3 separate regions of the Homo sapiens genome follow, and regions 2 and 3 are each linked to region 1. The links come from fine-mapping of genetic effects on gene expression. A gene starts in region 1. Each other region holds a variant in brackets. All regions are shown on one strand. Distances are from middle to middle.

Evidence for each region. PIP is the estimated chance that this variant, and not a neighbour inherited with it, causes the effect. A credible set is the group of variants that fine-mapping cannot tell apart.
Region 2: its variant is the best candidate, but not a certain one, in a credible set for the expression of GSTK1 in whole blood (TOPMed, PIP 0.87).
Region 3: its variant is the best candidate, but not a certain one, in a credible set for the expression of GSTK1 in blood mononuclear cells (TOPMed, PIP 0.64).

Annotation. Positions count from the first base shown.
Region 1 is chr7:143,257,626-143,267,897 of GRCh38, forward strand. GSTK1 (glutathione S-transferase kappa 1) reads left to right here and starts at 5,816. Exons shown (of 8, transcript NM_015917.3): 1 at 5,816-5,960; 2 at 6,461-6,542; 3 at 6,923-7,051; 4 at 7,367-7,467; 5 at 7,636-7,671; 6 at 9,992-10,108. The coding sequence starts at 5,889. All of the region lies in intron 2 of TMEM139-AS1 (TMEM139 antisense RNA 1), which reads right to left. LOC105375546 (a long non-coding RNA gene) reads left to right here. Exons shown (of 3, transcript XR_007060569.1): 3 at 5,523-5,582. RefSeq lists a silencer at 5,634-5,703 and enhancers at 5,731-6,025, 5,844-6,063.
Region 2 is chr7:143,220,377-143,230,648 of GRCh38, forward strand. It overlaps TAS2R40 (taste 2 receptor member 40), which reads left to right and starts at 1,661. Exons shown (of 1, transcript NM_176882.2): 1 at 1,661-2,703. The coding sequence starts at 1,703. The coding sequence ends at 2,674. The variant A/G (reference allele first, on the strand shown) is at 5,193.
Region 3 is chr7:143,292,761-143,303,032 of GRCh38, forward strand. It overlaps CASP2 (caspase 2), which reads left to right. Exons shown (of 11, transcript NM_032982.4): 5 at 1,470-1,564; 6 at 1,837-2,013; 7 at 7,163-7,291; 8 at 7,444-7,534. It also overlaps the pseudogene RN7SL481P. Among named protein-coding and RNA genes, the nearest start is that of CASP2, 9.5 kb to the left of the region's middle. The variant C/G (reference allele first, on the strand shown) is at 6,166.

The DNA of each region.
Region 1 (10,272 bases):
GACATCATTAAACTGCCCTCTGCAGACGCTGTACCAATTTACACTCCCACCGGTTAAATAAAAGAATGGTTTTCCATGACTCCGTACCAACACTGAGTCATCAAACTTTATGAGTTTTGTCAACTCGATAGACAAAAGCATATCACAGGGTAGTTTTAACTGACAATTATCATAAGTATACAAAGTGTCTTCAAATGTTTAGTATTTGCAAGCCATCTATATGTCCATTTTCATGTATGTTCTCTTCATCTTCCCATTTTTTCCACTGGGCTTCTGTTTTTTTTAATGTATTGATTTTTAGCTCTTTCTACAGTAGAATAATTAAAATTAGCTTTTTGACTATGAAATAAGCACAGATATTTTTCCCAGTTATGTTTTTGACTCATTGGATTTTGCCAAGCAGATTTTTAAAAATTTGATATAATTAAATGCATCGATCTTTTAAGGTTTCTGCATTGGTATTACAGTTAGCAAGGCTATTTCTATTCTCAGCTGTTTTAAAAGTTTCTCCATAAGTTCTTGAGGCACTTTATTGGCTTCCTCTTTATAACATTTAGATATTTGATCCATTTAGAGGTGTTCCATGTGTAAGTTGTGAGGTATGGATCTAAATACATTTTTGGGCCAGGCGCAGTGGCTCACACCTGTAATCCCAGCATTTTGGGGGTCCAAGGCAGGCGGAGCAAGAGGTCAGGAGTTCGAGACCAACCTGACTACCATGGTGAAACCCTGTCTTTACTAAAAAATACAAAAATTAGCTGGGCATGGTGGCACACGCCTGTAATCCCAGCTACTCAGGAGGCTAAGGCAGGAGCATCGCTTGAACCCAGGAGGTGGAGGTTGCAGTGAGCCGAGATCGTGCCACTGCACTCCAGACTGGGTGACAGAGCGAGACTCCTCACAAAAAAACAAAAACAAACAAACAAACAAAAACAAAAAAAAAAACCTCTCAGTTGTCCCAATATCATTTATTGAATAGTCAATTTTTTATTTATTTGAAAAGGCAACTTAAAGCATTTCCAGTATCAATTATTTAATTCCAAATGACATGATTAAAGCGCTATTTACTGAGCTTTCAAATGTAGATAATACCATTGGCTCATCTACGAAAGATGAGAATTTGGATCGCATACACCACCTCTCCTCTGCCTCCTCCAATGTTTGATAATTATATCATGTTTTGTTCCTCTACTTAGTGCTTTTCCCACTTCAAATAACTTACTTATACCACTATTTCTTGTTTCAATAGCTCTAATCAGTATCTAGAGTAAAATTAAGTAAGCAGGAGGCTATTGACCTGAGACAGTCTCCATGCTTTGAATTCCTATGAAACAAAATGCAACCTAACTTAGTATGTAAACAAACTGAAACTTAACTTAGGAGTTTCATTTTTATAACAGATAACCAGGTCTTTGCCAATCACAAGCAGCCAAGCTTCAGCTAAGTGCAAGCAGCCAACGGACTGGCTCATGTCTAAATCAAGCAAAACACTTAGCTGCAACAAATCAAACTATTTATGTACTTTACCTTCCTGTTCTGCTTATAAATACTCATTGCTTACAGTTGCAGAGCTCTCGGAACCTCTTCTGGTTCTGAGTACTGCCTGATTCAAGAATCATTCTTTACTCAAATAAACTCCATTAAATTTAAATTGTCTGAGGTTTTTCTTTTAACACTAAATACCCCTCTCAGCAATAGGAAGATGATAGCCCATAGAAGTGAATATATTTTTCTTTTTGTTGTCTCTACTCCATTTTATCCACAACAGGGCCCAACCTAAAAATAATAATAATAACAACAGTAATAGTATGTGGAGATAGACTGTAAGGACTCAGATCAATGTTTTATTATTCTGTGATTCTTAAAGTAAATATACATGAGTCCATACTGATATAAATAACTGACTGAATAAATAAATAAATAGAAAGAAGGGACAACTCTCCTGTCAAAAGAATTCCAATTAATAAATGAAAAAAACTAAGGAAATAGAGAATCACCATTAGAACACCACAGTAACAACTGCTGCAGGCAAGATCCACTGATGAATAATAAAACTGATGGGTGACAGTTTAGGGAGCAACTGGATATTTGCATAGCCTCAAAGTATCTCCCCCAAATATTTATTAGTTACCATGGTAGTGTTAACGTATATCCACAACTTCTTTAATATTCTTCCCTCCAGTGGATGGACTTAATCTACTCAACCCTCACTCCCAGGATGGGCTGCACTTACTGACTCCCTTCCAAAAACTAGGGTTTGGATAGGGAAAAATGGTGACTTTACAGTGCAGAAATTTTCCAGTTGCTCCGCCTTAACCAGGTGACCAAGGTAAACACCACCAGTGATGAGTCATGTTGATATCCCTGTACCTCATGACATGATTCAAGAAGGGCACCTTACCTCTGTGGTAATCTTCCCAAAAGTCCACAACCTTAGTCTTACTCTGAGGAAATATCAGACAAACCCAAATGAAGGGACATGCCACAAAATAGCTGATCAATACTCTTCACAAGTGTCAAAGTCATGAAACACTAGAAAAGGCCAAGAAACTCTCATAGATATGGGAAGAATAAAGAGACATGACAACAAAATTCTGTATGTATGCTGGACTGGATCCTGGAACAGAAAAAGAACACTAATGAAAAAACTGGTGAAATCTGAGCAAAACCTGCAGTTCAGTTAATAGTAACGTACCAGGCTGGGCACAGTGGCTCATGCCAGCACTTTGGGAGGCTGAGGCAGGGGGATCACGAGATCAGGAGTTGGAAACCAGCCTGTCCAATATGGTGAAACCCCGTCTCTACTAAAAAATACAAAAAATTAGCTGAGCGTGGTGGCACACGCCTGTAGTCCCAGCTACTTGGGAGACTGAGGCAGAAGAATCGCTTGAACCTGGGAGCCGGAGGTCGCAGTGAGCCAAGATTGCGCCACTGCACTCCGGCCTGGGTAACAGAGTGAGACTCCAGCTCAAAAAAAAAAAAAAAAGTAATGTACCAATGTTAATGTATTGGTTTTTATCATTATCATACTTATGTAAGATTTTCACATTAGGTAAAGCTGGATGAGGGGTATTCAGAAACCTTGTACTATCTTTACAAGTCTTCTATAAATCTAAAACATTTCCAAATATAAAAAGCTTTTTAAAATAAGTGATTGATCTACCTTTGAAATGAAACCTTAAATTACCACGCTGAATTAGCTCTTGGACACTTTAAAATTATGATTACTGGAGAAAAACAAAAATGTAGCTGGGCATGGTGGCTCATGCCTGTAATCCCAGCAGTTTGGGAGGCCGAGGTGGGAGGATCACTTGAGCCCAGGAATTCAAGACCAGACTGGGAAGCATGGTGAAACCCCACCTCGACAAAAAACAAAAATTAGCTGGGTGTGGTGACATACACCTGTAGTCCCTGCTACTCAGGAGGCCAAGGTGGGAGAATTGCTTGAGCTTGGGGGGCAGAGGTTGCAGTGAGCCAAAATTGAACCACTGCACTTCAGTCTGAGCGAGAGTGAGATCATGTCTCAAAAAAAACAAGGTGGGCTGTGGTGGCTCACATTTGTAATCCCAGCACTTTGGAAGGCCAAAATGGGTGGATCACCTGAGGTCAGGAGTTCAAGACCAGGCTGGCCAACATAGTGAAAGCCCATCTCTACCAAAAACACACAAAAAATTAGCTGGGCGTGGTGGTGGGCACCTGTAATCCCAGCTACTTGGGAGGCTGAGGCAGAGAGAATTGCTTGAACCCAGGAGGCAGAGGTTGCAGTGAGCTGCAATTGTGCTACTGCACTCCAGCCTGGGCAACAGAACAAGACTCCATCTCAAAAAAAAAAAAAGTTTAGTTTCAGTGGTTGTTGAACAATTAGTTTACTCTGCAAGTAGGTAATGATAACATCATTTTTCATTCCATTTTGCATGCTCTTCTCCATGTAGGGGTTTACCTCGTATCTCTGTATTCTGATAGCCTGGAGTTGTTTTCCTTATTGATACAAATGAAAAGTGGAATCTTTATATGTTTTCCAATTTATTAAATTAGTAATGTTAAAAATAATTTTAACAAAGTTAAATGGAATTATTTTAAAATTCTGTTTCTTTGCAGTAAATGTAATCCCAATATAAGACAATATGACTCACATATTTGTGAAAACGAATAGGGCCAATCGTTTCCATTATCACCAAAATTATCTATAGTGAGGCCTCTCCATCTTCTACCAGTCCCTCTTTTTTTTCACTCACTCAAAATATATGTATCGATGGTCAAATGTGTCCCAGACATTGTGCAAATCTCTGACAAAGGTAACACAAGAAAATGTGTACTCTGAGAACTTCTTATTCTGCCCCAGTTTAGGAGATTCATGCAACTGCCAAGCAACAATAATAAGAGCTAGCAGTTATTGGAGTACCTCATTCCTCACAACTCGTCATAAGGCAGGTGTTATCATTAGATATTCCCCATGTGTATGCAGGATGAGGAAATAGGTTCAGAGAGGTCAAGTGGCTCACCCAAGGGGCACAGCTAAGTGAAAGGCACTGCAGGCATCTCAAACTACCCCCTTCCCACAAGACTCCACTGCAGAGCAGGACAGTCACCCTGACACCAGCCCAATGGGTTCATCTTGCCCATTACCCAGATGGGGCTAATTTATCAAGACAAGGGAATTGCAATAGAGAAAGAGTTTAATACACATAGAGCCAGCTAAACAGGAGACCAGAGTTTTATTATTACTCAAATTAGCCTCCCAAAATTCGGAGGCAGAGGCTAGGGGACTTTGTGGGTTTTTTTGTTTTTGTTTTTGTTTTTCTTTTGAGAGGGAGTCTTGCTATGTCACCCAGGCTGGAGTGCAGTGGCATGATCTCGGCTCACTGCAACCTCTGCCTCCCGGATTCAAGCAATTCTCCTGACTCAGCCCCCCGAGTAACTGGGATTACAGGCACATGCCACCATGCCCGGCTAATTTTTGCATTTTTAGTAGAGACAGGGTTTCACCATGTGGGCCAGAGTGGTCTTGAACTCCTGACCTCAAGTGATCCACCCACCTCAGCCTCCCAAAGTGCTGGGATTACAGGCGTGAGCCACCATGCCCGCCGGCTAGAGTTTTTTAATGATAGTTTGATGGGCAAGGGGCTAGAGAATGGGTGCTGCTAATTGGTTGGGGATGCAATCACAGGGGTGTGGAAAACCGTCCTCAGTGCACCGAGTTGCATTTGGATGCGGGCCACAGAGGAGTCACTGGTCCAGGTGGAGTCATCCTGTCATTAGAAATGGAAAAGTCTGAGAAGGTATCTTCAAAGGCCAGTCTTAGGTTCTACAAAAGTGGTTATTTACAGGAATAATTGGGGAAGTTGCAGAGCTTGTGACCTCTGGAACAATGTCTGGTAATTGTTAATGCCTACATCTTAGCAGAATTCAGGCCCCTCTCATAATCCTAAACTTGTGGACTTTTATTAGTTTTATAAAACTGGTTTAGTTTGGGGAAGGGCTATTATCATTTAAACTATAAACTAAATTTCTCCCTATATTAGCTCGTCCCATGCTCAGGAATGACCAAGGGCAGTTTGGAGGTTAAAGGCACGATGGAGTTGGTGAGTTCAGATCTGTTTCACCTTCGTAATTTTCTCACTGTTAAAATTTTTGCAAAGGCGATTGCAGCGCCCCTTGTCCACACCTGCGCGCTCCCCAAGGGGTCCCTACCCACCCCGCCCCTGGCTGGGGGCCGTAGGCTGGCCCTGCCCCGCTGCGCCGGAGGTGGACCTCTACCAGGGCAGTTTCTCTCTGAGGCTGCGCGCTAAGGCGGTGGGCGGTCCCAGGCAGGCCCAGAAGCTGGGCAGCCTCTGCCGGGTTCCGGGAAAAGGAGCTCCTGCTGCCACTGCTCTTCCGGAGCCTGCAGCATGGGGCCCCTGCCGCGCACCGTGGAGCTCTTCTATGACGTGCTGTCCCCCTACTCCTGGCTGGGCTTCGAGGTGACGCTGGGAGGGGTCGCCTCGGCAGTGTCTGGGGAGTGAGGGCGGAGGGAAGAGTGAGCGCAGGGCTCCGGGACAGAGGTCTCGTGTAACTCCTGGCGCCGCCCAAGGGGTTAAGGCAAGCAGGGAGAGCTCCGGGGCTGAAGGTCACTTTGTGCTTTTAAACGGAATAGAGTCGCTGGCTCCAACCCGAGCCTTTATATCCCGACTGCAGTTTCCCACGGTGGTGGAAAGAGGGGCGGCTCCAAACATTCAGGGAGAAATGCAGAACACGGCCACCTCTTAGCCCAACGATGGCAGTTTTGGGGAAAACTGGCCACAGGAGCGAAGATCCTGGAATAGATTTCTAGTAGTGAGGAGAGTTTTGCCAATTTCAAACCAAACAATGTAGGGTGTCCGCATAACCCCTGCTCTGCACTTAGCGCCTCCCTTCCCTTTCCCTCGGCTCTTTCACTTTTCCATCTTGCACACTGGCAATCGTTCTTGACCTCTGCCCGCAGATCCTGTGCCGGTATCAGAATATCTGGAACATCAACCTGCAGTTGCGGCCCAGCCTCATAACAGGGATCATGAAAGACAGTGGTAGGAAGGGAGGGTCGGGGCAGGGGTGATCTCAGTGGCCCAAGAGAGCCGACCCCAGCGGGTCCTTATATTGGCACTGGCAGCCAGAAAGCTGCCCTCTGCCCCGTCTCTACTAAAAATACAAAATTAGCCGGGCGTGGTAGTGCATGCCTGTATACCACAGCTACTCGGGAGGCTGAGGCGGGAGAATCGCTTGAACCCAGGAGGCGGAGGTTGCGGTGAGCTGAGATCGCACCATTGCACTCCAGCCTGGGCAACAAGAGCGAAACAACAAGAGAAAAAAAAGGAAGCTGCCCTCTGCCCAAAACCCACGTCGAGGTCCCCAAACCTGGGACCCTTAGGTCTTTTCTCACTTAGCGTGCCCAACCTTCTCCTGGCAGGAAACAAGCCTCCAGGTCTGCTTCCCCGCAAAGGACTATACATGGCAAATGACTTAAAGCTCCTGAGACACCATCTCCAGATTCCCATCCACTTCCCCAAGGATTTCTTGTCTGTGATGCTTGAAAAAGGTGAAGAGAGTGGGATGTAGACAGGGTATCCAGTGAAAAACACAGAAGTCGGAGATTGAGGGATTGATAGGATGGAGGGGCTGCGGGAGACTAAAGCAAGTGAAGCCTGCCTTGGGAAACCTCAGGATCAGCCTTGAGCGAGCTGAAGGTTGCCGGGCATGAAAGGGAAGAAGAGCAGGCAAATAGGTCATGGGAACCTTGGGTGAGAGGCTGAGGGCGGAGGAGCTCTGGGGGATGTCAGAAGCAAGGAAGAGCTAGTCCTCCACCAGGAAAGCAGCAAGAGGAGCCCTGCCTCTGGGTGCCTCTGCCCCACAGGAAGTTTGTCTGCCATGCGTTTCCTCACCGCCGTGAACTTGGAGCATCCAGAGATGCTGGAGAAAGCGTCCCGGGAGCTGTGGATGCGCGTCTGGTCAAGGGTGAGTGTGGGGCTCTGGGAATCCTCTGGGAGGACCTTGGATGACTTTCTGACCTTCCCCAGGCACGTTTTCAGGGTCATGATCCTGCCCCCGCCCGGGGGATCTACTGTCCTCCCAGTCACACCCCTCTCCCCGCACCGCCTTCCTGCTGTCTTCTCTTCTTCCCAGAATGAAGACATCACCGAGCCGCAGAGCATCCTGGCGGTGAGTGTCCTGGCTCCACCCCAACTGCACTCATAGAGAATCTGAGAACAGTTGGCGTTTGGGGGTAAAGAAGACAATAGGTCTCTTATTGCATGGAAAAGGTTATAATTACTGGGGAAGAAAGGATGTCTGTGATTCAGGGCACAAACTACTGAAAAGTTGGAACTAAGGATCCTCAAAAGGATATCTCAAGGTTGAAAGGGGAAGTGCAAAAGGGACAATATATGGGAAGAATTTATTTGCTGAAAGATGTCAGTGAGAGAAAGATGCTCAGTGTTGGAACCCCTGGATGGGGAGGGATATAGTATTCACAAGTCTCCACAAACTCCAACACAAACCTCACCAACACATCCAGAGTGGAAGGCAGGAGACTTGTTCCAAGAGGCTTTAAAAAGACGAAAAGAGATAACTAATGCCAGGGTTATATAGGAGCCTGAGTGAGAACAAATGGAAATAGCTCAAAACATTGACCAGTGAGCCATGGATGGGGGTATAAAAGTAAGTTTGTCTTCAGGATTAAATTAGGAAATTCAAAACAGTATTATTCCTCTGGTTTACAAAAAAAAATAGTTGAGACCTATTCAAATTTAATATATAAAGTGGCAAATCACACAAAAGTTAAACGTATAAGGAATGGCAAATATATCTTCTACAGTCTATACTCCTGCAAAGTACATGTGTAATTTTTAGCTTGCTTTTTTACTTCATATTTAATCATTTTCCATGCTTTTTTTTTTTTTTTTTTTTTTTTTGAGACACGGTCTGGCTCTGTCGCCCAGGCTGGAGTGCAGTGGTGTGACCTCGACCCACTGTACCCTTTGCCTCCTGGACTCAAGCAATCTTCCCACCTCAGTCTCCTGAGTAGCTGGGACTACAGGCACACACTACCATGTCTGGCTAACTTTTTTATTTTTTGTAGAGAAGGGGTTTCACTGTGTTGCCCAGGCTGGTCTCAAACTCCTGTGCTCAAGAGATCTGTCTGCCTCCACCTCCCAAAGTGCTGTGTTTACAGGAATGAGCCACTGTGCCCAGCCTCCATGGAATTCTTAACTCTGAAAGTATAGTTCTTTGTTTCTATAGAGGTTCCACTGAGTGGACTTATTTTTGTTTTGCTTAACCATTTTTCTGTGGTTAAACATTTTGTGTAGGACATAATTCTCTAATTTAACCAAGTCAAAGATAGTGTCTCATTAGGACAGGCTACATGAATTCCTGGGTCCCACTTCTGATCTAGGAAGTCAAGTTGCAGTGGTTGTCAATCTTGGCTGTGAATTAAAATCACCTGGAGCACCTTGGCGCTAACCCTTTCCCCTGGAATTGTGATGTAATTGTTCTTGTTCTTTTTTTTCTTTCTTTCTTTTTTTTTTTTTTTTTTTTTTTTTTGAGACAGTGTCTTGCTTTGTCACCCAGGCTGGGGTGCAGTGGCATGATCATGGCTCACTGCAGACTCAACCTCTTGGGCTCAAGTGATCTCGCATCTCAGCCTTACGAGTAGCTGGGACTTCAAGCATGTGCCACCATGCCTAATTTTTTAAAAATTTTTTGTAGAGATGGGGGTTTCACTTTGCTGCCCAGGCTGGTCTCGAACTCCTGGGCTGAAGCAATCTCCTGCCTCAGTCTCCCAAAGTGCTAGAATTACAGGCATGAGCCACAGTGCTTGGATCTAGTTCTAAGGGATGACCTCACGTGGAGATTTTTTAAAGCTCCTCAGGAGTTTCAGATGGGCAGCCAAAGTTAAGAACCATCTATCCCAAACTATACCAACAAACCACAAACTGAAGCCTTTATCTTTGTCTTGAAGCCAGGTAGGTGGCTGCAGCCATGTGCCTTGTTACAAAGTTCTCAGGAAGTTCCACTGGAATTACAGCCTAGCTCTTGATTCAAAAAAAGCATGAGATACTTAGGAACTGTGAGAGGTAGGAAGGAAAGAGCCCTGGACTTGAATTCTAGAGACCTGGATTCTAGTGTTGGCTCTGCTACCAACATGCTCTGTAACTCTGAGCAAGTAATGTATCACCTCTGGATTCAGGCTCTTCATTTGTGAAATAAAGAGGTCTATCTAGCTGCTCTCTAAGATGTCCGCTGGTGTTAATTTCTGTGATTGACTCTGTGCCATCTACCTTTTCTCCTTTTCCACCCATCTCAAGATTTGGGATAAAGGAAATAGTTCCTCTTGGCAAGGACAGATCTCCACTTGTGGGTGGGTAAGGGCATTGCCAGCAAAACTTGGGGGCAGAAAATAAAAAGACCAGAGTTTTCCTCTGAGATCCCCATCCAATATCATGCAGACACAGTTGTATTCCCTACTATATTCCCTTAGGCTGCAGAGAAGGCTGGTATGTCTGCAGAACAAGCCCAGGGACTTCTGGAAAAGATCGCAACGCCAAAGGTGAAGAACCAGCTCAAGGAGACCACTGAGGCAGCCTGCAGATACGGAGTGAGCAGCTCTTTATGTGTGTTCCCAGCACCCATCCTGAAGATGGAGACTTGAGAATCTCTAAGTTTGAGTCCTTATGCTCCTGTACAAAAGCCCCCTTTCCAAGTGTTCTCCTCAGTGCTCTTAAACAACCCTCATCTTCTTCCTTCTTTTCCTTGGGCTCA
Region 2 (10,272 bases), 37 kb before region 1:
ATTTATATTATTAAAAAATATAATGGACCAAGGCCCAAAATATAATGGACCAAGGTGTGAAGGATGGTAGCTCACACCTATAGTCCCAGTATTTTCGGAGGCTGAGATGGGAGGATTGCTTGAGCCCAAGAATTCAAGATCAGCCTAGCCAACATGGCGAAACTCTGTCTCTACAAAAAATACAAAACTTAGCCAGGTGTGTTGGCATGCATCTGTAGTCCCAGCTACTCAGGTGGCTGAAGTGTGGGGATCACCTGAGCTATGGAGGTCAAGGCTGCAGTGAGCCATGATTACACCACTGCACTCCAGCCTGGGTGATAGAGTGAGACCCAGTCTCAAAAAGAAAAATAATCAAATAAAAATAACAGGGTAAGCACACTGGAAAATGATAACTGGCACTCAGCTTCTGTGTCAAGAAGACACTAGGAATTAGTATTGTCAACAAACTGAAAAGTATATACCTTGTTTAAAATGGGCAGCCATTACTCAGCTTCAGCCAGTTCACTATGAAGACCCAATACTGCCAAATCTTCTAATTTTTCAAGAGAAGATAGATTTTTTGTGCATGCATATAAGTAATCTCCTAAGTTTAAATGTTTGCCAATAGAACCCCTCAAAAAGAAAAGTTACACACTGGTGGATTAATGCTGTACAGCATTAACCAATGCAAGGTAAAATGACTACAGGCCAAATCTGACCCAAGGCTCATTGGTTTCCAGCTAAGATTTTGGATCTCAATCCTGACTATGAGCAACAAGACCTTTCGGCTTTTTTAAAAGATAGCATGCCTGAGCCCTAGTCCAGTTCTGATTTCCTAGATTTGGACGAGTCCTGGGCATCTACATATTCTTGTAAAGTGCCAGAGTTCATTCTGGTTCACAGCCAGGGTTAAAAAGTAGGAAATTAAATTTCAAGTCATAGTACCTTATCACATTTCCAAACTTCAACACCATGTCCAGAACACTGAATTCTCCCCAGGCTCATTCTACCTGATTCTGAGCTCAAATAGTCATGTGGGATCTCAGTAAGCTGAAATTGATGACACATACACAAACAATAAAAACTGGGACTATGGAGACTTCCTTCTCTCCAACTCGAATAGCATCCAATTTTGGCTTTTCTATATACTATTCGAGGACATTATAATAGCAGGCCTTTTTGGAAGAAACTCAATTCTAAGTAAAAGATGTTCATATATGAGCTTATGGGAATTTCTTATTCACAAACATGGTAACTATCAAAATAAAACTCTCTCCCAAAATAAGAGAGACAAGAAAAGAAGTGGGGAAAACAGATTTTAAAAGCTGTATGAGCTTTTACAAATAATTTAGCAGGTAACAGAGATCTTGTGAGACAAGTAAAAAGGCCTTGTATTCATTGCTTATCAGGTAAATGTGGACTTAAAGTAAATAAGGTAAGAAGGTGTTGAGCTAGAAACATGTCTCAAATTATTTCCAGTGAGCTTCTGAAAGCCCAAGACAAATGTATCTTTATGAAAAATTGAGACAGACCCAGTAACCAGATCCTCTCATTATTTGCATGTGAAGCCTCTAACTTGTAGTCATGTGATAAACAAATGGAGAAAAATTGGAAATAACCATTAATGAGGGCGGCAGAAATTATAACATTGAGCAAGGGTCAGAAGATTGCAGAGCAGTTACCCATTCTTGGCGCAGAAACCTGAAAGTCAGGATCAAAGAGAATGGCAACGGTGAACACAGATGCCACAGATAAAGACATATCCAAGTTCAAGGTCACCTTCACTTTGGTGGTCTCCGGAATAGAGTGCATCACTGGCATCCTTGGGAGTGGCTTCATCACGGCCATCTATGGGGCTGAGTGGGCCAGGGGCAAAACACTCCCCACTGGTGACCGCATTATGTTGATGCTGAGCTTTTCCAGGCTCTTGCTACAGATTTGGATGATGCTGGAGAACATTTTCAGTCTGCTATTCCGAATTGTTTATAACCAAAACTCAGTGTATATCCTCTTCAAAGTCATCACTGTCTTTCTGAACCATTCCAATCTCTGGTTTGCTGCCTGGCTCAAAGTCTTCTATTGTCTTAGAATTGCAAACTTCAATCATCCTTTGTTCTTCCTGATGAAGAGGAAAATCATAGTGCTGATGCCTTGGCTTCTCAGGCTGTCAGTGTTGGTTTCCTTAAGCTTCAGCTTTCCTCTCTCGAGAGATGTCTTCAATGTGTATGTGAATAGCTCCATTCCTATCCCCTCCTCCAACTCCACGGAGAAGAAGTACTTCTCTGAGACCAATATGGTCAACCTGGTATTTTTCTATAACATGGGGATCTTCGTTCCTCTGATCATGTTCATCCTGGCAGCCACCCTGCTGATCCTCTCTCTCAAGAGACACACCCTACACATGGGAAGCAATGCCACAGGGTCCAGGGACCCCAGCATGAAGGCTCACATAGGGGCCATCAAAGCCACCAGCTACTTTCTCATCCTCTACATTTTCAATGCAATTGCTCTATTTCTTTCCACGTCCAACATCTTTGACACTTACAGTTCCTGGAATATTTTGTGCAAGATCATCATGGCTGCCTACCCTGCCGGCCACTCAGTACAACTGATCTTGGGCAACCCTGGGCTGAGAAGAGCCTGGAAGCGGTTTCAGCACCAAGTTCCTCTTTACCTAAAAGGGCAGACTCTGTGACTGGAACTCACGGAGTTCTGCGGGACCTGGTCCAACCACTTCTGCCTTTGCCTCAGGTAGAACTCTCTCCTCACCCGTCTCTTCTCTCCCAAACCTGCTCTGACACTTCTCAGATAACGTGATCCTTTTATAAATATGAAGCTGAATTTTTAACTTGAGATTCTAAACAGAAGTAACTAAGAAACCTGAAGATGGACTTTGAAAGCTCCTTGAACTATGTTCATTCATATCCTGCCCTGAGATCTCTCCACTTTCTTCTCCTCCTGAGCCTTAAGGAGAGGGTGGCCAGACATATCGGTTTGCCAGGGACAATCTCTGTTTATTGTCTGTTGTCAATTGAGCATCCTTTAATTCTCAAGAATATCATGGTCTGGATGAAGAATTACATGATCATCCTACTTAAGACACCCAACTAACACACAGTTAGGGCTGGTGAAGCAGAGCACAGCACTCAGTCCACGGGGTAGAAGGGAAACCAGAGTGGCTACAGAAAAAGAAGATTCAGGAAAGAAAGGCTGCTGGAAATTATCAAGTGCTGCAGAGTTCCGAGGAAAGTAAAGGGTGAAGAAAAAGGCTCTGGATTTGACTAAAAGGATGCCATGTGTGCCATTAGTGGAGTGATAGGGTGACATCCTGATCCCAGGAGTTCCAGAAGATAATGCCAAAAGGGAGGGGATGGGTAAAAACCAATAGTCTAGAGAGGATGTTTGCAGATAAAGATGAGTTATAGAACGGCAGATGGATATGTGAAGGGTCAGTTCAATGCTTTATTTCTCCAAATGGGAGGGGACAAAGTGAGCAGAGAGGAAAGAAAGAATGCAGGGAAAAGAGTGAAGTGGGCAGGAAGCAGAAAGAGAAAAGGAAGAGGCCAGAGTAAGTAAGCGTCTGTTTTGCTCAGCTCCTGACTCTGTGGCAATGCTAGCGGCACCTGTGCCTCTGGTTTTACCAGTTCTGGGTTACCTTGAAGTAAATAGTGGGGCAAGAGCGGGTTACTTGGGGCAGGCTGCTGGAGAAGAGGAAAAACATTATTCTCCATTGTCATTGTTCAGGATGGTTCCAGCAGCATTGTCTCAAAGAGCTGTTCACAAAACATTGGACACCCTCTCCCCAGATATCTTAGAGCTTGAACGTTAGGAATCTGAAGTTGTCTTTTATTAGGTAAGTTTTAAATCATGATTATTGAGGAAAATGAAAAAAGAATGCTGTGGATCATACCAAGCTTAGGTAGCCCCCAAATGAAAATATGAGGTCAGTAGCAAAGTCTAGTTCTGAGCTCCAGCGCTCTCAAGCACACATTTCAGAGAGAGTTCCTTACATCCATAAACTGCAAAAACCACACACACACACGGCATACACACAGACACATGGCATACACACACACACACACACACACACACACACAGATTCCTTTATAGCTCAGACAGCTTGGGACTTATTTACCTGAAAAGTAAAATATTAATAAAACACACATTTTTGATAGTTTTCTTAAGCTATAGTTATTTATATGACTATTTCAGGCGGTATTTGTTATAGTAAGACAAATTAGATATTGAAGTTTTATTCCAGTCCCTAGAATAGAGAAATATACATTTTCTTCCAAGTTATATATATTGATAAAAGGGTCATGTACCCACTAAGGGTTCTCTGATGCATTACAGAGTTAGAGAGAAAATTGATTTAAAGTTGCCATTATATTAACATGAACCATGTCAAGACCACAAAGTGGATAACTCCATACTTACTATGAAGAAATATCATCTCATTGCTAGCAAGAGCCTAAGGCAGCACATAGCTAACAAAAGCTCCAAGGATGATAACATCCTTATCGATGCACATGTTGGCCTGCCTTCAACGAGATAAAATTCTCTCCAATTCTCTTTCTTCTGTATGTAAAACCCAAGTAAGCACTCAGAAAGACCCAGAATACCTAGTCTTCAAGTTGTCTGGCTTTAGACAGCAATCAGAAGTCCTAAATGAAGACAATAATCGACTCTGCTGGACAAAAGTCTGTAACCAAATGCAAAGCCCGGCTTGCTGTGGTCTCAATATTATTACAGGTTTTCACCTTGCAAACTCTACATCATCTCCCTCGCCCCACAGCCCTGCGGGATGTTGAAAGTGATAGAGTGAAGGATTCCTTTACCCACAAAGTCACTCTGAATATTCATCTAGCATGTGGAGCAGGTAAGGGGACTTTGGTTAGCAATGGATTCCAGTCTGGCAGGCCCAGCCCAGAGGCAGGGTATCTGGCTTCTTTCCTCATACCTGGTCGAGTCCTTGCAAATAAAGGCTAGACTGGCAGCCATGGCCAGTCTAAGGGCTATGACTTTATGGGCACCAGATTGTCCCACAATCCAGTATCATCTTCCCCTTCCAACTACTTCGGTGTCTGCTAAAATTCCACTGTGGTTCTGGCTTTTCTTTGCTTTTATTCTACAGGAAATCTGTTATTCTCTCAGGCATTCTTTACTTGGGGCAGCAGGGAAGAAACATCTATGTAATAAAAAGAAAAGAAACT[A/G]TAAGTCCAACCAGTCTAAAATGTCTTGTGCTGGGGGAGGGGAGCAGAAACCAAGGGCTAACTAATTATGTCTTGTTGGAGACAGGGCAACTTGTGCATTAGGAAAGATCATGGAAGGAAAGAAAAAAAAGACACCGAGAGAGGAAGCCTTCCCATCTGTCTTACGTTTTCTCCCTCTCCTCTGGAGACAAGGAATATATATATAGTTTTCTTTTTTTTTTTTTTTTGAGACGGAGTCTCGCTCTGTCGCCCAGGCTGGAGTGCAGTGGTGCCATCTTGGCTCACTGCAACCTCCGACTCCCTGGTTTAAGCGATTCTCCTGCCTCAGCCTCCTGAGTAGCTGGGATTACAGGCATGTGCCACCACACCCAGCTAATTTTTTTATTTTTAGTAGAGATGGGGTTTCACCATGTTGGCCAAGATGGTCTTGATCTCCTGACCTTGTGATCTGCCCGCCTCAGCCTCCCAAAGTGCTGGGATTACAGGCATAAGCCACCGCACCCAGCCAAGAAAAATCTTTAGAAGAGAGGTAAGAGGAGGAAATTTCTTATGTACTCAGAAAGATTTGTTTGGGGGAGAAAGAGGAGGACAGAACGGCTAAAAAGCCAGTCTGTAATGTTTGAAGGCTGGGGGAACTCTCTGTACCCTTTTCTAAATGGGGGAAGCGTTGCCTAAAATAGGAGAGGCAAAACTTTCAGGGAAATGCTCAAATCAAGTGTATGCTGGGAAGAGGTAACATGTTACACTGCTACAAGTTTCTGTTGACAGGAGGAAGATGGAAGCATTTTGGAGCCTGTGACATGGCCCAGGAAGGGCAGGCCTGGGCGGAAAATGGGAGCAGACAGCAGAAAATGGGTGGTGTGAAGGGCTGGGGCAGTGGGAACCTAAAGGGGAAGATGTGGAGGTGTTGAGTGCTGAGTTAATCTTGGCCACTCTCAGTTGGGAGAAGCTCTTAACTGACAATTCTGCCTAGGCCTGTGGGGATTACCCTGTAAGCAGCAAAACAAAGTTTTCCAAGAGCTTTGAAGAGGAGCATTTCTGGGTTGGACTCTTCCCTCCCAGTGTGGTATTGCAAAGGTGCTCTGTGTCTGTGGCGCTAGCCCATCAAACAACGTCAGTAGGAAGAATACAGATTTGTAAAAAATTTTCCTGGTTTGTCTCTCATTTGGTTTTTCTTATTTTTTTTAGCAAAGTGTCTTATGAATGTTCTACCCTCTTTCAGTTGCATCAAGAAGAAAATAAGAGAAAAGTGGTTTTGAAGATAGCCCAAGAAAGAAAAGTACCAGCCACCCCCTAGGTTTAGTATGGCAGCAGTAGCAGGAGGGGATCCAAGGCAGGGTGGAGCATTAACAGAAAAACCTGCATCCCCTCAACTTCCACACCCCCGCCCGTGCAGTTCCCAGAGTCGTGAGACTGGGTTTGGGTCCTGGCTCTGCCACTTACTGGTGTGCAAATGGGCATGTTATTGCATCTCTCTGAACCTCAGTGTCCACATCTGTAAAATGGGAACAATAATGGGAAATACCAGCCTCCTAGGGTTATCTCATCCTAAGAGAAGAATGGGGTAAAGTGTTTAGCACACAGCATCTGACCCAGAGTAAGCCATCAATAGATGTTAGCTGTTAGTATTCCAAAGGGAAGTGGAGTGACACTGAGAGGCATCTAGAATGAGGATATTTAAAGCAGGCCAGATATGAAAAGGACAGACCAGACTGGGCCAGATGCACACAGAAGGCTTAGCCTTTATAGTCCCACAGGCTTGGTGGCAGAACATGGCCATGGATCCAGTAGTTCAGTCATCCAAGTGGCAGGTGAAAAGTGTAGGGTGGCCTTAAGAATTGGATTCCTGTTCACTTCCTGACAATGTCAGAAATGAAAGACATCTAGTATTCCACAGTTTAGCTGCCCGACAGTTATCTGAGTGTAGATTTGAACCTAACAGGCACTAGGTTAGGGGTCAGCAAACTTTTTCTGTAAAGGACCAGAGAGTAAATATTTTAGGATTTGTGGGCCACATGCAGTCCCTTCCAGAAGAATTCAACTCTTCTGTTGCAGCACAAAAGCCACCATGGTGATTCAAAAAATAAATAAATGGACATGGGTGTGCTCCAGCAAAATTTTGTTTATGGACACTGACATTTGAATATCATATAATTTTCACGTGTCATGAAATATTATTCTTCTTTTAATGTTTTCAACCATTAAAAATGCATTTTTAATAAATGCCTCTTGCATTTTTAAATGGTTAAAAAATTAATATTTCATGATGTGACATTTTGTTGGAGCACAGCCATGTCCATTCTTTCCCAGCTGTGCACTCTTGGAGGGTGAAATTTTTGCTTAGTTGATCTCGTGGGCCATACAAAACAAAAAGAATCAGTGGGTCAGATTTGCCCCCAGGCTGCAGTTGCAGACCCTTCACTCAGGCATGTTCTCCTACCCCTGAAGGCACAGCATTCCCCAGGACCCAGTCACACTTCATTGCAAAACCAGGGATACTTATTGTGGCAACTTTTGCCATGTTATTTTTTCTTTCTTTTTTTTTTTTTATTATACCTTAAGTTCTGGAATACATGTGCAGAATGTGCAGGTTTGTTACATGGGTATACATGTGCCATGGTGGTTTGCTGCACCCATCAACACATCGTCTACATTAGGTATTTCTCCTTATGCTATCCCTCCACCAGCCCCCCACCCCGCAACAGGCCCCAGTGTGTGATGTTCTCCTCCCTGTGTCCATGTGTTCTCACTGTTCAACTTCCACTTATGAGTGAGAACATGCGGTGTTTGGTTTTCCGTTCCTGTGTTAGTTTGCTGAGAATGATGGTTTCCAGCTTCATCCATGTCCCTGCAAAGGACATGAACTCATCCTTTTTTATGAATTTTTGCCATGTTTTGAACGTGGCAACTTCCCCAATATTTTTGCCACTTTCAATTTCTCCAGCTTTTCTCTGTCCCTGTGCAATCTTTAAAATAGAGTCCACTAGCTCTTTGTAAAAAAATAAAATAAAAAAATAAACAGAAAGCTAATGTTCTAGTCCCCTGTCTCCCACCTGCTAAGGATAGACACGGAGCCCAAATTTTGTTTCTCCTTAAGGCTTTGAAAGCTATTGCCCTGAAGCTACTCACTTGATAACAATGAGTTTGAAATAGTCATGCCTCTACAAACCATCTCTGTTGAGGTTGAACACTAGGCTTTCTGAGTGCTTTCTCCTTGTGAATTTGATCCAGCAGGGCAATGTTTGTATTTTTGTGTTCTTTTAGATGACTAAGCAACAGGCTGGTTTATTGAATAATGATGGGAAATGTGGTGTATAGAAAGAATCTACATTCGGTGTCAAAGATCTAGACTTCAGTCTCCATTCTGTGTGATCTTGGGAAAGTCACTAAACCTTTCTGAGCCTCAGTCTCCCCATCTGGAAAGCAGAAATAATCATAACATCCGCTACACATGGTTGCTATGAGACTCAAATAAAATATGTCTATAATAAATTGTAAACCACGATATGAAGATAAGTGCATTCATTCATTCAACAAAAATGTATTTCTTAATGCATTTTTAGTAAATAAAGATCAACTCAACAAAAATTTTACCCTCCAAGAGTACACAGGCTAGAAAAGAATACTGGATTAAATTATAATGTGAAAAATTCCTGAGTAGTCATCTATGTACTGTGGAGTCAGGAATGTACCCTAAACCTCAAATGTGCACAATTAAAACGCCTATCCTCTAAAAACAATTTTTTAATCCTGATCTTCTTTCCCTAGTTCCTTCACCGTGGGGAGCAGATAACTCAGGACAAAATCCTTTTCTCTCGGTCTTACTGAGCCATTTAGGAGAAATCAGGGCTGAGAGAAAAAGAAATTTTCCACTGAGCTTCCTCAGAGATTCCCATCAGAGCCTGAGGATGGAAAACAGAGAAGGGTCCCATTACATCTAGCCCTCCCGAGGGAAAGCTGCTGTTTGCATTTCCTGCCTACAGCTCTCGGGACTGCAAATAAATCAGTGGTTTATTCAAACCAGTAGCTGGAGAGTAGATTATGGCTGGCGGCCCTGAGTGCAGCTGAGACCATGAGTGATGGAAATGCTTGGCAGGGAGGGAGTGGCAATGTGACCTGCGGAAAACACCAAGACCCCATAGGCCCGTTCTTCCCTCATCTCACTGCTCAGTGGAATAGCACCTGACACTCACACTCTACTCATAAGAGTTAACTAAGATTTGTTAAGATTTATGTGAGATTTATCTTAACATAATAAAAATTAAATATCTCCAAATACTACAAGAAATGGTCTTAACCTCTTTGTTATCTAATCAAATTGTTAAGTGATTCAAACACCTTTGCCTAATATTTTATCTTTCATGAGTTATTTCACTAAGTTTTGTGTCTATATTCTAATTTACGTTTTTGGCACTGATGGCATTAATTGTACCCAATGGCAGAATTTTTTTTTGAAGGCTAAATAACTAAAAAACATGCCTAGTAAGTCCTGATCTGAATAAGTTAATAATATTTTAAAAAGTCAAACCTGTGGCCTGAGTCTCCATTGCCTCTGATCCCCTTAAGGGTGGGGCACTGTTGGCCACTCTCTCTGTTTTAAAGATCTTCACCCTTGACTTCCATATCTATTCAGCTGCCTGAGTTTTCTTCTATTTCCTTATCCACCAAGTACCCTTCAAACATACAACTACTCACAATTTGTACCCTTTATCTATTGCCACCACTAAGGTGACCAACCACTCAGATTTTATAAACTGAAAGTTCCACAACCCAGAAAACCTCTCTGTCCTGGATAACCTGGGACAGTTGGTCACCCTAAGCTCCACCCAAATGACTGAGGCTAAATTCAGGTAACAAGTATTACCTTTCAACTCAGCTATGATATTCACACCAATTCCATAACTTTGTGAACAAGAAACCTATACACATTCACTTGAACCGCACATACACACACACACACTCTTATACTCTTTCACACACACCTCATGCACACACTCACATATACTCCCATTCACACACACCACATACATTCTCACACACCACATACATTCACACACACACCCCACACACTCACATTCAC
Region 3 (10,272 bases), 35 kb after region 1:
AGCACTTTGCGGGGCCAAGGCGGGTGGATCACCTGAGGTCAGGAGTTCGAGACCAGCCTGGCCAACATGGTGAAACCCCGTCTCTACTAAAAATATAAAAACTAGCTGGGCATGGTGGTGGGTGCCTGTAATCCCAGCTACTCGGGAAGCTGGGGCAGGAGAATTGCTAGAACCCAGGAGACGGAGGTTGCAGTGAGCCAACACGGTGCCACCGCACTCCAGCCTTGCCAACAGAGTGAGACTCAGTCTCAAAAAATAAAATAAAATAAAATAAAAAGGAGGGGGGTGTCCCAGATTGACTTCCCCTTTCTTGTCTGGTATCTGGCTTTGTCCTAACATGAGCCCTTTTTTTTGTTTTTTTTTTTTTTTGTTGTGTTTTTTTTCAGAAATAGGGTCTTGTTCTGTCACCCAGGCTGGAATGCAGTGACACCACCATAGCTCACTGCAGCGTTGAACTCCTGGGTTGAAGGGCTCCTCCTGCCTCAGCCTCCCAAGTACCTGGGATTACAGGTGCATGCCACCACACCTAGCTCATTTTTAAATTTTTTGTAGAGAAGGAGTCTCACTTTGTTACCCAGGCTGGTGTCAAACTTCTGGCCTCAAATGATCCTTCCGCCTTGGCCTCCCAAAGTGCTGGGATTATAGGCGTAAGCCACCATGCCCAGCTGAGACATAGTTTATATTGGGAACAGTTGTCAGTAAATTTGTTAAGGGCTAGTAGGACAGTTTATGCAGGAGTTTGTGGTTTTTTGTTTTTTTTTTTTCTTGTGATGGAGTCTTGCTCTGTCGTCCAGGCTGTAGTGCAATGGTGCAGTCTCGGCTCACTGCAAACTCTGCCTCCTGGGTTCAAGTGATTCTCCTGCCTCAGCCTCCTGAGTAGCTAGGATTACAGGTGCGTGCCACCATACCCAGCTAATTTTTTGTGTTTTTAGTAAGAGATGGGGTTTCACCATCTCCTGACCTCGTGATCTGCCTGCCTCGGCCTCCCAAAGTGTTGGGATTACAGGCATGAGTCACTGCGCCCGGCCCAGGCAAGGTGTTATTAATAGTTGGTCCATTTCCCTTCCACCCCAGATAACAGTTTTTGTGATAATTGGGCCTTTGAGTAGCATGTATGGGCAGGAAGTTCATGCTCAATTGGCCTCTAAAAAGCTGAATAAGAAAAGACTACATTTGGGGCCACCAGCCTGCTGATGGAGCATCCTAGTGATTGGAACGAGGCTTTTATCAGCTAGCCCATTCGGTCATTCAGCCAGTTGAGCATATGCTTCATGCAGGCTATGTGCAGAGAATCCTTTAGTGAGCTAAAACTAAGAGTCTCTGCCCTCATGAAGCTTACAGGTTTGGGTAGTGAGTGAGACCAATATTTATCACAACCCAGTTGCAAGAGATGTCTGAAGTTACAATGACATATTAAGATTGATGGTTAAGTTATATACTAGTTTTTTGGTTTTCTGTCTATACCACAGATACTGTGGAACACTCCCTAGACAATAAAGATGGTCCTGTCTGCCTTCAGGTGAAGCCTTGCACTCCTGAATTTTATCAAACACACTTCCAGCTGGTGAGTTTTTGCATAATGACAAGAGGAAGAGAGTTGGGAAATTAGACACCCTTCCTGGGAACCTGAACTTAGTTTGCATGTACATTTCCTTTCTGCCTTATTAGTCAGAAAGTTGTTACTGGTTAAATGCCTTCTGTGAGCATTTGTCTATTTTTACCTGCTGGAGGTTAAGAAGAAAAATACGATGTCTTTGTTTTCTTGAAATGTCTAATCTAGCCGAGGAATCATCTGTTATCAAGACGCTCATGGTCTAACTGGCCTCTCCTCCACAGGCATATAGGTTGCAGTCTCGGCCTCGTGGCCTAGCACTGGTGTTGAGCAATGTGCACTTCACTGGAGAGAAAGAACTGGAATTTCGCTCTGGAGGGGATGTGGACCACAGTACTCTAGTCACCCTCTTCAAGCTTTTGGGCTATGACGTCCATGTTCTATGTGACCAGACTGCACAGGTACCTGAGGTGGGAAAAATTGACATGTAAATTAGAGGACTGAACAACACTTTGGGACCAGAGACATCGTTTGTTCCTGTGCCTGCTGGGATATGTCTTAAAAGTTGGTTTATTCTACTTACATTTTTACTCACTCTGTTCTGCCTCTCACCTTGCATTCTAGTAAGAAAGAATTAGGGCCGGCCAGCCATTTTAGTGTTGACATCTCAGGTTGTGGTTTCATAAAGTAATAATAGTCCACAGTTGGTGTCTCACTTTTTTTTTTTTTTTTAAAGACAGAGTTTAGCTCTGTCACCCAGGCTGGAGTGCAATGGCACGATCTCGGCTCACTGCAACCTCTGCCTACCAGGTTCAAGCGATTCTCCTGCCTCAGCTTCCTGAGTAGCTGGAACTGCAGGCGCATGCAACCATACCTGGCTTATTGTTGTATTTTTAGTAGAGACGGGGTTTTGCCATGTTGGCCAGGCTGGTCTCAAACTCCTGACCTCAGGTGATCCGTCCCCCTCGGCCTCCCAAAGTGCTGGGATTATAGGCATGAGCTACGGCACCTGGCTGGGAAAGTATTCTTAACATTTGTGTAATCACAAGTCATAGGGTAGATTGTTTGTGGACCAGATTTCTAGAAATTGTAAACATTTTCATTATGGGCTGTTCGTCATTAACCTCAGTTACTGTACTGCACAACTGACTTTGTGACCTTTAGGGTTTCTATTTTGCAATCAATAATGGCCTATTTGTAGATTCATATTCACTCTTTATTTTGATTCCAGAATAGTAGAACTTTCTTCAACTTGCTTTGAGGTTGTCAGTGGTGAAATTAAAATTGCTAGGAGATTCACTTTGATCTGTTGGGATAGAGGATCTTTGTTTTCCATTCAGCATTGTCTGTAGTCTTCATTTCTCTTTCTTAGCTGCCCTCCTTCTGTGAGAGTAATTATGTATTTACTATATTTTTGGCAAGGCCAGTTTCATCCACAGGTACCTGGGTGTTGTCCTTTACATGCTATTTTTGCCAGCTTCCCCCTTGTAGCATATGCAATGTAGTTAAATCCACCCTTGCTTCAAAGCCATGGCAGCAACAGCTGCTTCAGTCATCAAGTATTCAGGTAGTTTATATGCTTTCCTGAGAAGTCTGCTGGGCATAAAGGGGCAAAGGGCAGGGTACCAGCCATAATTCCTACAGAAGGTCACTTAACAAAATGTGCAGTGTGTGTGTTTTCTTAGAGGTTTTGGTCTAGCCATGTCTTTTACTAGAAATCTATTATGTCATGGTTTTTCAAGTTGTATGCAGCTGATAAAGGATCTTACATGTCTAATAGTTAAAGATAAAATACTGAGTCACTAAGTCAACTATATATACTGCTGTTTTCTCAGAGACTGTCAGATTTGGTGAGTTTATGAGCTCACTTCATAAATAGCATTTCCATTTATGGTAAGCCTGATGCATATTCAGTGACCTATTGGATTCTAATTCTTTGGTTGAATTGCTCTGTAACTGGAATTGCAGTAGAGTTGAACTTCAAGCACCTTATAATGGGGGACTATGTGAGCTGCCACAGATTTTAAAGATCAGATGAGGGAGTTTTGACATCAGCATAAAAGGAAGTGTGTCCTCTTATATTCCTAACGACCAAACAAGATTAGAGAAAAAATCTTCTGTCATAGCTAAGAAGAAGAAGCGCCTAGGTAGATATGATCAGAAGGATAAGTGGAGGAGGCAGAACTTAAGCTGGCCTTGAAGGATAGAAGTTACTGAAGCAGAGAGGAGTGGTGAAGCCACCCTAGGCAGGGAGAACAGTATGTGGACAAGAAATGTGTGTGTTATAAACCAGGTAGTTGCAATGGGTGTCATAATTTGGTACACTGGGCATCTGCACAGAATGCTCTCTTCCTGGTGGGATCTCCCTAGAGAGTCAACTCGTTTATCATATAGCTATTTGGCAAGCAAAGAAACAGAACCAAAAAAAAAAAAAAGATCCTTTTTTCTTTCCCTATCAAATCTTTCTTACTTAAGAGAGGAATTCCATTTAAAAACAGGAAATAGTATAATTAGTCTTAGAGACTCCTCTTCCCCTGATAGTGCTGCAGTGAACATGGGTATTCTCACTGCCCAGATGTTTTCACTTTTCTCTTTGTTATTAAGTTTTTATTGCATCTACTTCATGAGGTTACTAGTTCTAGAATTATGATTTACCCTATGTTAGGAAACGTACTCTTCAAAGTGGAAATTTCCTTTTACCATGTGGTATTGTTTTTTTAGCTTGCATTTGGGTCACAAACTGCTTTGAAAATGTAAGGACAAGCTATGGGTTATCCCTGGAAAATGCAGCTGCCCATATAATTTAGCATATAATTTCAGAGGGTTCACAAGTTACTCTCTTCACATGTCCCCCAACCCCTAGCCAAAAATACACTTAGGAGTTAAGAACCCTGCTATTTATAGAAGTACTGTAATTTTATCAAAAACAAATCTGCAGATCCTATTTTAAGCTATGCTACTTGTAGAAAAATTCCTCCAAATGTCTAATCCCCATTTATTGAATGGTTTAGTCTTACTAAGTTTGGTTACAAAGTGCGTGTATTCTTTTTTTGGACATTGTTTTCTATTTACTGACCTAATCTCACTAAATTCAAAATGCTCGTGATTCGGTGCCCAGGTATATAATTTTTGTTTTCTTTTTTTTTATTTTGAGATGGAGTTTCACTTTTGTTGCCCAGGCTAGAGTGCAATGGCGCGATCTGGGCTCATTGCAACCTCTGCCTCCCAGGTTCAAGCAATTCTCCTGTCTCAGCCTCCTGAGTAGCTGGGATTACAGGCGCATGCCACCACGCCCGGCTAATTTTTGTATTTTTAGTAGAGACAGGGTTTCATCACATTGGTCAGGCTGGTCTCAAACTCCTGACCTCAGGTGATCCACCCGCCTCGGCCTCCCGAAGTGCTGGGATTACAGGCGTGAGCCACCGCGCCCGGCCTTTGTTTTCTTCTTTGAGCAAAATTAACTTCTTTAACTATTAAATGTTAAATTCTATTAGCATCAGCTCCAGAGGAACATTCACAGTTATGTATTCTCTTGAAATTATATATTCTTGAAAGAATTTTTTGATTATCTGTCATTACCTTAAGATTTCTATTATTATGGTTTGCTTCTACTTAGAAAATACAGATACTTTTCAACAACACCAGTCTCTTTATTTCTAGTTATATTGCAGACTTTCAAATATTTTATGTAATTGCATCTCAATTATCTACAAACAGAAGTATTCCGAACAGATCAATTAGTAGCTCTCAAACTTTAACATATCACAGTGTCCTGGAGGGCTTGTTAAAACACATTTTGCTGGAGCCCAAGATTTCACGTTTCTTCCAAGTTCCTGGGTGATGCTGCTGTTGCTGCTTTAGGGGCCACTCTGAGAACTACTGCAATATGTTATATTATAGAAGTGTGCTTTTTATTTTGGCAGTGTGTGTGATTAAATATATGTGTGTTTTAACTCTTCCACCCAGATAACTTACTTATTTTCATTACATTTTATTCAAGTTTATAATAAAATGAACTTGTTTTCTTTCTGCCCATCTCAGAAGACCCAGACATCGTGAATTATAGAGGGAGGCATAGGTTTAAACATGTGTGCCCAATTATTATGCTCTTTAGGTACACAGTATAACCTTCTGATGGATGGACCAAATGCTTAAGGTAGTGCTCTTCATGTATCGCAACTTAGTGCAAGATAAACAAGATTCTCCAGGCATGGTGGCACATGCCTATGGTCCCAGCTACTCTAGAGGCTGAGGCAAGAAGATTCCTTGAGCCCAGGAGTTCTAGGCTGTAGTGTGCTATGCTGATCAGGTGTCCAAACTAAGTTCATCATCAATATGGTAACCTCCTGGGAGTGGCGGACCACCAGGTTGCCTAAGGAGGGGTGTACCAGCCCAGGTCAGAAATGGAGCAGGTGAAAACTCCTGTGCTGATCAGTAGTGATCTTACACCTGTAAATAGTCACTGCACTCAAGCCTGGGCAATATAGCAAGATCCTGTCTAAAAAAAAAAAAGATAAACAGGAAAACAGTTCTTAAGTTGGACTACAACATTGACCAGTAATAGATTTCTTTGAGAAAAATACTCTTTATTCGACATGCACATTGTAATGGCA[C/G]ATTTTTTGCAATGTGTCCCAGACACAGTGATCGGTTTTTGGTTTTTTTTTTGAGACAGGGTCTCTCTCTGTCACCCAGGCTACAGTGCAGTGGTGCAGTCACAGCTCACTGCAGCCTCAACTTCCTAGGCTCCAGTGATCCCTCCACCGTAGCCTTTAGAGTAGCTGGGACTATAAGCATGCACCACCATGCCTGGCTAATTTTTTTTTTTAAAGATGGAGTCTTGCTAGGTTGTCCAGGCCAAGTCCTTTGTCATAATATCTCATTTTTATCTTCACAAACTTAGAGAAAATATCCTCATAATTTTTTTTTATAAAGTGAAAAGTGAGGTCTCAAGGGTCTGAGTAAGCTGTTCCAACTCATGAAGCCAAGGTTCAAACCTAGATTAATCTGAACCCAGGACCTGTGTATGTAATTACTGCCCTGTACAGAATCCTCCTTCATAGCGTGCTCTTTCTGAAACAAAGCATTTTATACAGTCATCATCATTATCTCTTGGACACTTAGAATCTTAGAAGACAACATACAAGTATTGCTATTCTCTACTATCATGATGCTGTCACAGAACAGTTTATTTTCGTGTAGCTGAATGTGCATGTTACTTATTCATAGCTACACTTTGAGTCACCCTTGTGCCATTTATATACAAGGGCAGTTGCTCTAATGAAGGATCTGGTTATGAACAGGGAATTAATCAGAGTTGACCAGCTCATGATTAGCTTCTTTAGTAACTTGCTTTAATCCAGGAGCTGTTTGCCTATCTCAGTGAGTCTGAATCTGTATTCAGAATATTGTGTCTGAACTCATATGCATTTTTCTGGTGAGTCCATAGCTTTCTTTAGTCTCTCAAAAGGTCTCTTCTTTTATCATTGACCACAGGAATATACATAAAGCGTTTTATCTTCTAATAGCTTAGGGTTTCAAAAAGAAACCAAACTTTGATGCTTATGTTGGTGCTGACCTTAGTGCACAACACTAAACATTCCTTTCTTTTAGGAAATGCAAGAGAAACTGCAGAATTTTGCACAGTTACCTGCACACCGAGTCACGGACTCCTGCATCGTGGCACTCCTCTCGCATGGTGTGGAGGGCGCCATCTATGGTGTGGATGGGAAACTGCTCCAGGTGCGGATACCCTGGTGGAAGCCAACTGTTGAAACCAGGCTGCTTTACCTCCTGCCTGCTGTCTGTCAAGTGATGGCTACTGTTGCATGTGTAGGACTTAGGAGGCCCCGCTGAATGCTTAACCTCTCTTCTTCCTTCTTTCTTTCTGGCAGCTCCAAGAGGTTTTTCAGCTCTTTGACAACGCCAACTGCCCAAGCCTACAGAACAAACCAAAAATGTTCTTCATCCAGGCCTGCCGTGGAGGTGAGTGCCCTAGCAGACCAGCACCTGGGTGGTGGCTCCTGGGCAGCCTCCCACCAGCTCTCACTTTCCTGTTTGCTCCTCTCAGGTGCTATTGGATCCCTTGGGCACCTCCTTCTGTTCACTGCTGCCACCGCCTCTCTTGCTCTGTAAGTGTCTCCCAATGCATGGGGTGTGCTGGGACTTGGGCAGCCCATGGCTCTCAGGCTGGTCAGCTCTCCGTGCACCACCATATCCTGTTTTCAGGTCTCTTATCCCGTGTCTTTGCCTTCCTTTCTGAGAACTCTTACTCTTTTCTGTGCTTCATTAACTCTGGTGCCCTTTTTTTGGTTACTCATTCCAGTTACGGATTTTTGATCTGTCTTTTTCCTGTCCTTCTTATTTTATCTCCTTTCTTTCACTCTTTGTTCTTTTCACTTGTTCCATATACTTCCCTGTTTACCTACACTTCCATGCTTGCCTCCTTTCTTCTTTCTTCTTACCATTCTTGGGTCATGCAGGATAGCAGAACAGAATCCGTGTTGGCCTTTGACTCTTCCTTTTCCGTGAGCTGCTGCTGCCCCTCTTTCTCTCATGCAGTCTGTTTTACTCCTTTAAGAGCCAGGACTGCAGGACGAGGATTAAAAGACACATAGGTGTGCTTCTCATCCTGGAGGAAAATAATAGTAATTAAGAGCCCTAACTTTGGAGTCAAATTCTGACTTCACCATTTACTAGTAACGTGAAGTTAAAGAAGTTAAATGGCATCCCTCCATCTCAGTTTCCTCAATATAAAATGAAAATAGTCCTTGTACCTACTTCATAAGGTGCTTGTGATGGTTAAATGAGATTATGCATTTAAGGGCTTACATAGCTCAGTACCTGGCTCACAGCACATCCACAAAATATGCCAGCTGTAACTCTTAAAACACGATCAGTGCCGTAAAGGGCTTATAGTTTGCTTTAAAGGTCACTTTGTCCAAACATTCAAATAATTACTTTTTTAATCTCTCATGTGGCCAAATGTAAATAGCTAATATTATTGTCATCCTGATCTAGTATTACCGCAGAATATAGTCTGCTGAGGCCCTGCAACATGACTCAGACTACGGCAGTTACTACCGCAAAAGCAGAAGGAAATGTGGCCTCTCTAAGGAGCAGACCAGTTACTCAGGAAAATAAAGTAAATATACATGAAGTAGCTTAAGACTAGTTCACAGGCCTCATGTAAGCAAAGGTGAAATTAGCAAGGTACAAACTGTACTTAGGAAGGAGTATGCAGTAAGAGTAGATCATTTTAAGTGAGGGTAGTTTAAAGAGATTTTTTAGATAAGATAAGGCTTAATTTGTACCTGGAGTAATTTGATTTACATAGTTATAGAGTAGTATCTAGAGTCTGTCGTAGGAAAGAAACAATACAATATGATAAGTACACTGAGAGGCAGAGGGCATGTTGTGTCTCCCCTCCTCCCAAACAGATGCTCGGATCTGATTTTAAAATAGCATCTGTGTGAGTATGTGAGATGTGGCTGGTCACAATGAAGTGGGTTCACCTCCTTACAAACCTTTAGTCATAACTGAGGTTTTGGACATCAGCAGGTAAAAGTAAGGAACAGTTGGGAGCTTAAGTAAGAAATAATGTGATGAATTGTTTTTCCAGCAAGGTTGCCATGGAGGGGGCTGCACTAAGGAAAGAGGTTATGGGTCAGCAACTTTACTTTTCATTCCCTGCTCTATCCCCAGGCCCAGGGCACTGCCTGATGCATGGTAGCACTTATAAATGTTCAATGAATGGATGAAAATTAATCTGCCTGAAAAACTGTAGGTATTATGTAAAAAACAAATATGAGGATATTGTGACAAAAGAACCAGTGACATTTATTGATTGATGGATCTGTGATATAAAGGTGAGAGAGGAATTCTCCTTTCTCTTTAGCTTGGCCTGTTTCCTTTAGGCGTCTTTACTAACAAAACGACGTTAAATTGTGATTTTCTCATCCTATATCCAGGGATTTAATACACTATTGGATCTGGATAAGGAGTAATTGCTCTTTTCTGGAGTAATCTGGATCTTTTGCTCTGTCTCTCTAACTTTTCTGAAATTAAATCCTTCAAGGAATGACCAGTAGCCAATTGTTCCATTGAAAATTTGAGTTCACCTGTCTTCCTGCTGTATTTGGTTAATATAATTAATGTCTAGAAAAAGCTCCACCCCCCTGCCCCAGTCAGCTTCTAAACTGGAGTGTAAGCTCCATGACGGCAGGAATTTTCTCTTCACTCTATCCCTAGGCCTTAAAGTAAGACAGTGCCCAACACATGGCAGTTGCTTGACACATTTTTATTAAACCTGTGCTTTGGTCCTTTTCCCCCAATTCTTGAAGCTTCCCTTCTTTCCTAGGCTCCCTCGACATTGCATGGATCAGGAAGTACTGTAAAAGAGCATACTCTTACTTTTGATGTGTTGACCTGAGAGTCCTCCCCATCTGTCTTGCCTACTGACAGCACCCCTGCCCACACCCAAAATAAAACAACATCATCAAAAATAAGAGTCTGTCTTGGGATACATAAGGCTTGTATCAAGAGCAAGGATCTGCTCAGGGTATGTTGAGAAATTACTGCTAAAATTGAATAAGGATGATCTTTTTAAATTTTCTGGGAGAAAACAGTCAAGTTCTCCCCACTTTAAGTTTTTCCTCTTAAAATTTTCATAAGGCCAGGTGCAGTGACTCATGCCTATAATCCCAACACTTTGGGAGGCCGAG